Homo sapiens: one gene and its partner. The protein of the gene in region 1 purifies or fractionates together with the protein of each later gene. This does not show direct contact. Each region holds a gene or a part of one and is shown in the gene's direction. Other genes may lie near its edges.

What was found. The genes of interacting proteins can lie anywhere in the genome.
Region 2: the proteins of OR2T1 (region 1) and ARID3C purify together in Homo sapiens (affinity purification with mass spectrometry; one large-scale study listed by BioGRID and IntAct). This does not show direct contact.

What each region holds. Positions count from the first base shown.
Region 1 is NC_000001.11:248,401,898-248,405,847, forward strand, and holds the start of OR2T1 (olfactory receptor 2T1), read left to right. Parts: upstream 1-1,150; 5' UTR 1,151-1,348; intron 1,349-3,950. UniProt on the Homo sapiens protein: Odorant receptor.
Region 2 is NC_000009.12:34,626,117-34,630,275, reverse strand, and holds the start of ARID3C (AT-rich interactive domain-containing protein 3C), read left to right. Parts: upstream 1-1,359; intron 1,360-2,189; coding exon of another isoform or gene 2,190-2,261; coding exon 2,262-2,579; intron 2,580-4,159. UniProt on the Homo sapiens protein: Transcription factor involved in monocyte-to-macrophage differentiation.

The sequences.
Region 1 (3,950 bases):
AAATAAACTCTCATCAGAAATAACAGGTCTCTCTAGTAGAGGGGTTTATTCTAGTGTGTAGTCTCTTTATGGGTCTTGTAGGAGGTGTGTGTGGGTTGAAGAATGTGGTTCTAAGTTACTCTAAAATTGTCAGAGTACATTAGTGCTTTATTATCTAATAATTGTATGATTATTATTTCAATATGAGTTCATTCTTAATGATTCCAACTTTTTGAAATACTAAACAGAATTTAGGAACACGGAGAAAAACTAGGAACATATATTTTTGTATTTAGTCTCAAAATTGCACAGCACTGTATTGACCTGTCTTGAGAACTTCTCATGTGAAAAGGTAACTGTAAGTTTGAATGTGTATGTAATGACTCAATGTGTCTGCGATAACAACAGAAAAGTAATATTGCCAGTGTATTCTGTACAGGAAAAACCACACCTACAGTAATCTGTTGAAATTGAGGTATTATATTCTAAAATAGACATTGCAAAAGCTATCCCCAGTAAATACCTGGAAGTTGAGCACTTTGGAAAAAAATTCATACATGAATGCATAAAATAACTGGAGAAGTGTGACCGGTATAGAGAAGGAGGACAGAAAACCTTGTAGTCATATTCACATTATGAAATGTTGAATGTTGCAAAGAGAGAAAACTGGTTCCAAGCAGATTCAGAAGGCAAGGAAGAATCCTGCATGAAGCAGCTTTAATTTAAGCTAATGCAGAGCTTCCTAACAAGGCTGCTGCATTGAAGGAGCATGGAGCTTGCTCTTTTCTTTGGCAGAAACTTCACCAGTGGTCATAGGGAAGCAAGCAAAGGCTGCAACTTACAAGTTAGGAATTATCTTGTCACTTGATTTAAAGGATGGGCTTGGAGATCATCACAGTCCTGGGCAAGCATTGTGTCCTACCTTCAAACTGTAGTGATGTGGGAGGAAAATATTTGCGGCCATCCCTACTCAACCAACATGCACGCCTTATAAAATAGTACAGAATATTTACAAATGTCAGGATAACATAAATGCATTGATTTATCTCTTGGTGTACGGTATTATGCAATAAAAAATAGTTTAGGTAGGCCTAAAAGACAATTTTATCCAATAAAATTATGTCTATTTTATCCACTAACTTTTTAAAAATAATTTTCTCAAAATTTGCAGGCCAAGCATACTTCTGCTCTTCAAAGGCATTTAGATGTTCTGCAAGCTTAATTGAAATGCACAGTTTTTTCTGAGAATTTCTACTAAGTAACAATCCTTTCAAGTCAAAGGATACTTGGGGGAAAAGATAGACTTTAACTGCTGATGTAACTTCACTGGGAGCACCTGGGTTTACAGACCTTTTCTGAAGATCAGGAGGTATTTGCAATTTAAATTCATAGATTTTAGTTGAATATGTAGATTGCTTAAATGAGAGATTGAGAATTTGCACCCATTTACCAATAGTTTTGAAATAATTTGCAGATATCTTACATTTTACTTGGTATTGTATAAAATATTTGCACCTGTAACTATAAATTTCTTATTTGATTCTTAAAGTAACCCTGAATGTTTATTATATCAATTAATATAAGCAGATACTGAGGCTCAGGGTGTTTAGGAAGATAATCCAAGGTCACAGAATTAATTAATGTCGTGACCAGAGGAAGAACTCAATTCATTTAATTCTAAATTTTGTTTTACTGTATGTTGCCTTCATCATTTCAGAAACAAATGCCTATATAAAGTCACAGAATCATTCCAAACATTTTCTGATTATTTTTATGTGTACTAAACCATAGCAAAGCTGTATGATCTATGCCCAGGAGATATTCAACAAGTATAGTTACTTATTGTGCTCACTCTAGTGAGAGAGCAGATAATAAATTTAACAAAACATTTTACTTAAAATCATAATTTACTTTGAGGAGGGCTTGTTCTCTGATAAATTAGATCTTTTGTATGCAGATAGGAAAAGTAAGGCCACTTGGCTGCAAAATGGAGTAGACTTTAGAATTTCCCTTTGCATTGCTAGGTTTGCAGGGCTAGCTGGCCATAGAAAAAGCTAGAACCACAGAAGAGTTACATATATACATATATAAATCTATGGGAGGAAATTATGAATGTATATACTTATATATATATATATAATGGATAAAAGATCATCCTTTATATTCTTGAAGTTTGTTGTGGATTTTACTGTAACCTGAAATTGTATAAAACAGTCCCTCAGTTTTTCTTAATTGCCAGAGCTACGGAAAAATTCCAATTTCCAAAAATCATCGGTGAGTTATACCTCAATATGTATGTCCCTGTGCTATTACATATACGTGTGTGTGTGTGTGTATAAAATGGGAGTAAGGGTGAACAGACAGCAGAGACCACTGTTTGACTTTGTGAAGCAGCACATGATTTTCCCTCTGTTTCTGGTGTCTTATCGCATGATAAAAGTCAAACCGAAAATGTAGGAAGTGTGGAAGTAGCTGAAATACTGCTAATATTTAGGCTGCGACATAAACTGGAGAGGAGTTTCCCTTTAGAAATATATTTTTATAGGTTCCATTAATGAAACCTAAAAAAAGTAAAATGAGGGAGGTTGTAAGTAATGATGACATTGTACATAGTATCATAAAAATGTATAAAACCTGACACCAAATATTCTGAATTAGCAAAATATACATTATATATATATATAAAATATACATATGATGTATCTATGTGTACATTTTTATATATGTGTGTATATCTGTACACATAGTTTATATCCATAAAACAGCAATCCTGATTATAATAATTTATGTGATCTACTCTCAAGTATGACTAATTTTCATTAGTCACATTAGTTATTACATTGTTAACAATTTAGCAGGTTCACATGCTTGGTACATTTTATTTGCTAATTACAGTAAATGTCTAGCTGCTATTCCCATATAAAGCTTCCTATATACACAATGCCATGTGTATGAATATATAATGAATTGAGACTATCTAGTCCAAACACTCCTGGCACTAACAGACCCCGTGACCACCAACACGTTACCCTCAATGCTGTCATTGGTGAGAGGGGCTTTTATAGCTCCTCACTTCTTAGTTTTATTGTGAAGATCAGGGAGTCAATAGTTACAAAGTACTTCTTAGCATGACACTTTGCAAAATAAACTCCACGATGTCATCATCATTATTCTCAATAGCAACTTCTTTTTCTGGGCAATTGACTCAAATGCTAATATTTTTAGAATATTTAGAGGAGCACTAGACTAGTTTGATCAATTTTACTCCCAAATATGTTGGTAAAATGTCTTTCTTGGGACACTTTTAGCCTTAAACAATGTGAAAAATCATCCTTTACTTCCATGAAGTTTGTTGTGGATATTTGTTTCTTTATTGTAACCTGAAATTGTATAAAACACACTCAGTTTTTCTTAATTATGAAGAACTATGAAAAATTCTAATTTCCAAAAATAATCAGTGAATTATAGCTCAATGTTTACGTCCCTGTGGTATTTCCTCTGAATATTAATTGCTAATACTGATTTCTAATGGTCATGCTAATCATAATCCTAATGCTAATTCCTCATCATCTTAAAATTGAAAATAAATAAAATTCTACAACACTGAATGCCTCTTGTATTGAGAATAATTTTTATGTCTAAATTTGCAAGAGTAGTTTCCGTTGAGTTTCTGTTGCCCTTTTTATTTCATCCCTTATAATTTGTCTGGGACATGGATAAACTAACACCAAGTATACTCTCATGATGTAGACAGTGACTTGTGACCCAAATGGTAGATAACCCGTACTTGTAGCTAAATGGAAGACATGAGCTACTCACAGCCAGCACCAAAGATGTTTTGAAAGTAGTGGTGATGCCAACCATACAAAGACACATTAAATAATAATACAAATTTAAATGCATCTAAGGTAATACACACACGCATACACCGGACCATGGTATGCGTAACTGCTGTGTAGCATGGTATGCAA
Region 2 (4,159 bases), on another chromosome or scaffold:
AGCATTTCAGCGTCTTGGGAATAGTTAGGGGGAGGGCGCAAAGCAGTGGGCTGAGGGGGTCTGGAGATACAGATGTGGCAGTCAGGCACACATAGGTGGAGAATGTGTGTGAACATGGGCGAAGTGCCGGTCACTGTTGAAACAAACCTATGATGAGTACCAGAGGTTCATTATACTATTCACTTGTCTATGTTTCAAAATTTTCATAATACAGGCTGGGTACGGTAGCTCATGCCTGTAATCCCAGCACTGTGGGTGGCCAGGGTGGGTGGATCACTTGAGGTCAGGAGTTCGAGACCAGCCTAGCCAAAATGGTGAAACCCCATCTCTACTAAAAAGACAAAAATTAGCCGGGTCTGGTGGTGGACGCCTGTAATCCCAGCTAATTCCAGCTATTCGGGAGGCTGAGGCAGTAGAATCACTTGAACCTGGGAGGCGGAGGCTGCAGTGAGCCCAGATCGCGCCACTGCACTCCAGCCTGGGTGACAGAGACTCTGTCTCCAAAAAAGAAAAAAAAGAAAAGAAAGAAAAAGAAAAGAAAAGAAAATTTCCATAATAGAATGTCAAAAGAGACAAAAACTGTGTGTGGCTGTGTATCTGCATGCGGTGAGTGTGCAGTCAGCTTAAAGACCTCTGAGAGTGTGTGAGTGCATAGGTGTGGGTCCACCACCATGTGCACTCATGTGTGCAAACCGCAGCATGCCCGCAGTGGGGGACAGCACGTAGGCAGGGCAGGGGTGCTCAAGGCAAAGGGAGAAGCTTCTATTCTGACCAGACCCTCCACGCACACCCCAGCATCTTGCAGAGGGATTCCCCTCTTGATCACAGCGTGCCCAGGCCATTGGCACTGTGGTGACCATGTCACGGAACGTGTGAGACTGGGAAGCTATGCGCCTGAACTTGTGACAAGGTGTGTTGGTGTGTGGATGCGGCTATTTGTATGTGGAAGCCCAGTGCCGAGTGTGGGTGTCGGGGGCACGACTTGTGAGGCTGGGCGGGGCTCTGGTCCGGAGTCCGGTGGCGGTAGAGCCCTCATTTTCGCACGATTCCCCCGCAGCTTTCCAGCGCCCCCTGCCCCCGAAGCTGGCTGGAAAGAAGGTGGGAGACACCTGTTGGGGAGCTGAGAGCGGCAGATCCCACAGGGGCCTCTCCCCATGCGCCCCGCCCGCCCTGCCCCGCTCGGGTCCCGCCCCCGCGGCCGCCGCAAGCAGCGCGGCGAGTGAGCGCACAGCCGCCAGAGGAGCACAGGGCGGCGGGAGCGCACCGCCGGGACCCAGCCGAGGCCAGGGCCGCCTGGGAGGCGGGCGGAGCAAAGGCAGCGCCGTGGAGACGCCAGGGGCAGCGGGCCACGCCAGGCAGGTGAGTGCGGCCGCGGGGCGCCCGGAGCGAGGGAGCCGGGCGTCGCGACTCTGCCGCCTCCTGCCCGTCCGGTCCCGTGCCCGTCCCAGGCTCTGCCCCACCGCCCTCCATCCCCGCGACTCCTTGGTCCCTGTCCTCTGCCCCTCTCTCCGGCTGTTTTTCCCGTCCCTGTCTCTGTCGGTCCCTCTCTATTTAACTGTCTCTTTCTAATCTCTCTCTTCTGTCCGTTTCCTGCTGTCTTGGTCTTTCCCTATATCTCAACCCCTGTCTATTTGTCTATCTCCGCCTCTGTCTCTCCGTCTCTGTCCGTCTCTGAGCTACCTGTCACTTAGGTCTTTTATCTGTTGCTCCTCTACCTCTCTTACCCTCCCTGTCTCTCTACCCAATATTCTATCTCTCTCCATCTCTGTCTGTCTACCCTGTCTCTGCCTGATACCTCTGCCTCTCTCCATCTTGGTCCCTCTCAGTCTCTGTGTCACCCCACTTCTGTCTCTCCTTGTCACCCTGTTCCATCTCTATTTTCACATCTCCCTGTCATTGTCTCTGTCGGACATCCCCCTTCTCCTTTTCTTTCTCTCTCCCTTCCTTCACCATTTCCCGATGTCTCTTGGTCCCCGTCACCCTCTCTGATCTGCTCACTCTTCCAGTCCTCAGTCAATGGCCATTTGATTCCCCGGGTCTGGTCCTGTTTCTGTTCACCTCTGGGAAAGCCATCTTTCTGCCTCTTTCCTTGTGACCCCTGCACTTCCCTGAATCCATGACCACCTCCCCCTGTGTTGGGGGGCTCTGGGGGCAGTAGGGCCCAGCACCCATAATTCCCTCCCCCACAGGCGGCCCTTTCCTCGGGGTCCCGCCTGGTACCAGGGACCCCCTCAGCTGGGGGACTGCGCCTGGAAGCTGTCATGGAGGCCCTGCAGAAGCAGCAGGCAGCTCGGCTGGCCCAGGGGGTGGGGCCATTGGCCCCTGCATGCCCGCTGCTGCCACCGCAGCCTCCCCTGCCTGACCACCGGACCCTACAGGCCCCTGAGGGGGCCTTGGGGAATGTTGGGGCTGAGGAAGAGGAAGATGCTGAAGAAGATGAGGAGAAGCGGGAGGAAGCCGGGGCAGAGGAGGAGGCAGCTGAGGAGAGCCGTCCAGGGGCCCAGGGCCCCAGCTCGCCTTCTAGCCAGCCCCCTGGACTCCATCCCCACGAGTGGACCTACGAGGAACAATTCAAGCAGGTAGGACCTATGCCCTCAATGTCCGGCCCTCTTCCCTATCTCTCTCTTCTGGCAAAAGCACAGCCAGGTGATTAGCAGCCCACCCACCCCCACCACCCTCTGCAAGATGAAAAGAGACACAGAGACACGGAGACCTATAGAAAGACAGAGAGAAGATTGGAGGATAGTGACAGGGAGGGAAAGACAGATGCCTGGCTAATTTTTTAAAATTTCTTTTGTAAAGACAAGGTTTTCTTGTATTGCCCAGGCCGGTCTCGAACTCTTGACTTCAGGTAATCCTCCCACCTCAGCTTCCCAAAGTGCTGAGATTACAGGGATGAGCCACCATGCCCAGCCAGGTGTAGGGAAGGCAGTCTAGGGGCTGGGGATTCCAATGCCAGCACCACCCTGCCTACCTTCTCACACATCAAGTCACAAGGTCATATTCCAGTGACCAGTGGGGGTGACCCAGTTGCTTCCTCTGTCTTTGGAAGCAGAATGGAGGTTATCACTCACTTGGCAGGCTGATACACCTTTCCTTTCTTTCCTGTCACCTCCTCCCTAACCCTGGCCCCATGCAAATCTCCCTGGCCTGAGTTCCACGGATGATAGTTCCCAGCCTGGGATGGCCACTACAGCCGCAGTATGACTAAAGGGCTCCTCCGCAACTCAGAATGACAAGACTTCATTCACAGGGCCTTAATCTGAGGTTCTTTCTCCCTGGAGAACCCTTCTGGGTGTTATTCTAAGGACACTACTCAAGGCTGTCACTATGAAGGTGTTACACAGGGCTGTGTCTCCAGGTGTGCTATTCTGGTACTTGTAGGGTGTTGGTCTGGGTATATTCCAAAAGTGTTGATCTGTGACTAGTACTCTGGCATTAGTATAAAACTGAGTGTTACTCAGGGCTCTGTTCTGGATATGTGGTCTAGAGACTGTTTCTCCTAGGTATAATTCTAGGGGTTATTACTTGGATCTAAGTAATAACATCTTAGACTTAGGGCTCAATTTTTGTGGGAATGTGGCTCTAAAGGTGGATCTGGGGTTTATTACTCATGGATATTTTGTTTGTTTTATACTCTGAGGATTCTTATGGGGATGGAGTGATGGAATATTATCTATAGGTGTTACTCAAGGACTGTTACTCTGGGTCAGTGACTCAAGGGGTGGTTCTCTTGACTAGTATTCGGGAGTTGATGCAGGAGGTGGGACTCCAGATTACCAGGAAGAGTTGAGATGGCCTGTGGATCCTTTAAACTCTGACCCCACAGGTCCTAGGTGGTACAGGGCCAGTGCCTCTATAGCAGCGTCTGTAGGCAGGTTAACTGCCTCTGAAAGGAAATCAGACCAGAAGATGAGCTGAAGGGCCCTGGGTGTCAACCCAGGAGCTTCTGAGCATCACCCTGCCTGAGGGGTGGGTTAGGAGCATCTCTGCCCTTCAGTCACCCCCAGCCCTGGCATACAGGGATGTGAACACCATGAAGTCCTTGCATGAATGAATCAGAGCATCAGATATATGTTTGTCTCCTCAGTCTGGTATACAACCCCAGCCTAGCTTCCTTCCTGGGGCTCTAAATTTCCCATGAGGGTGGGGGAAGACT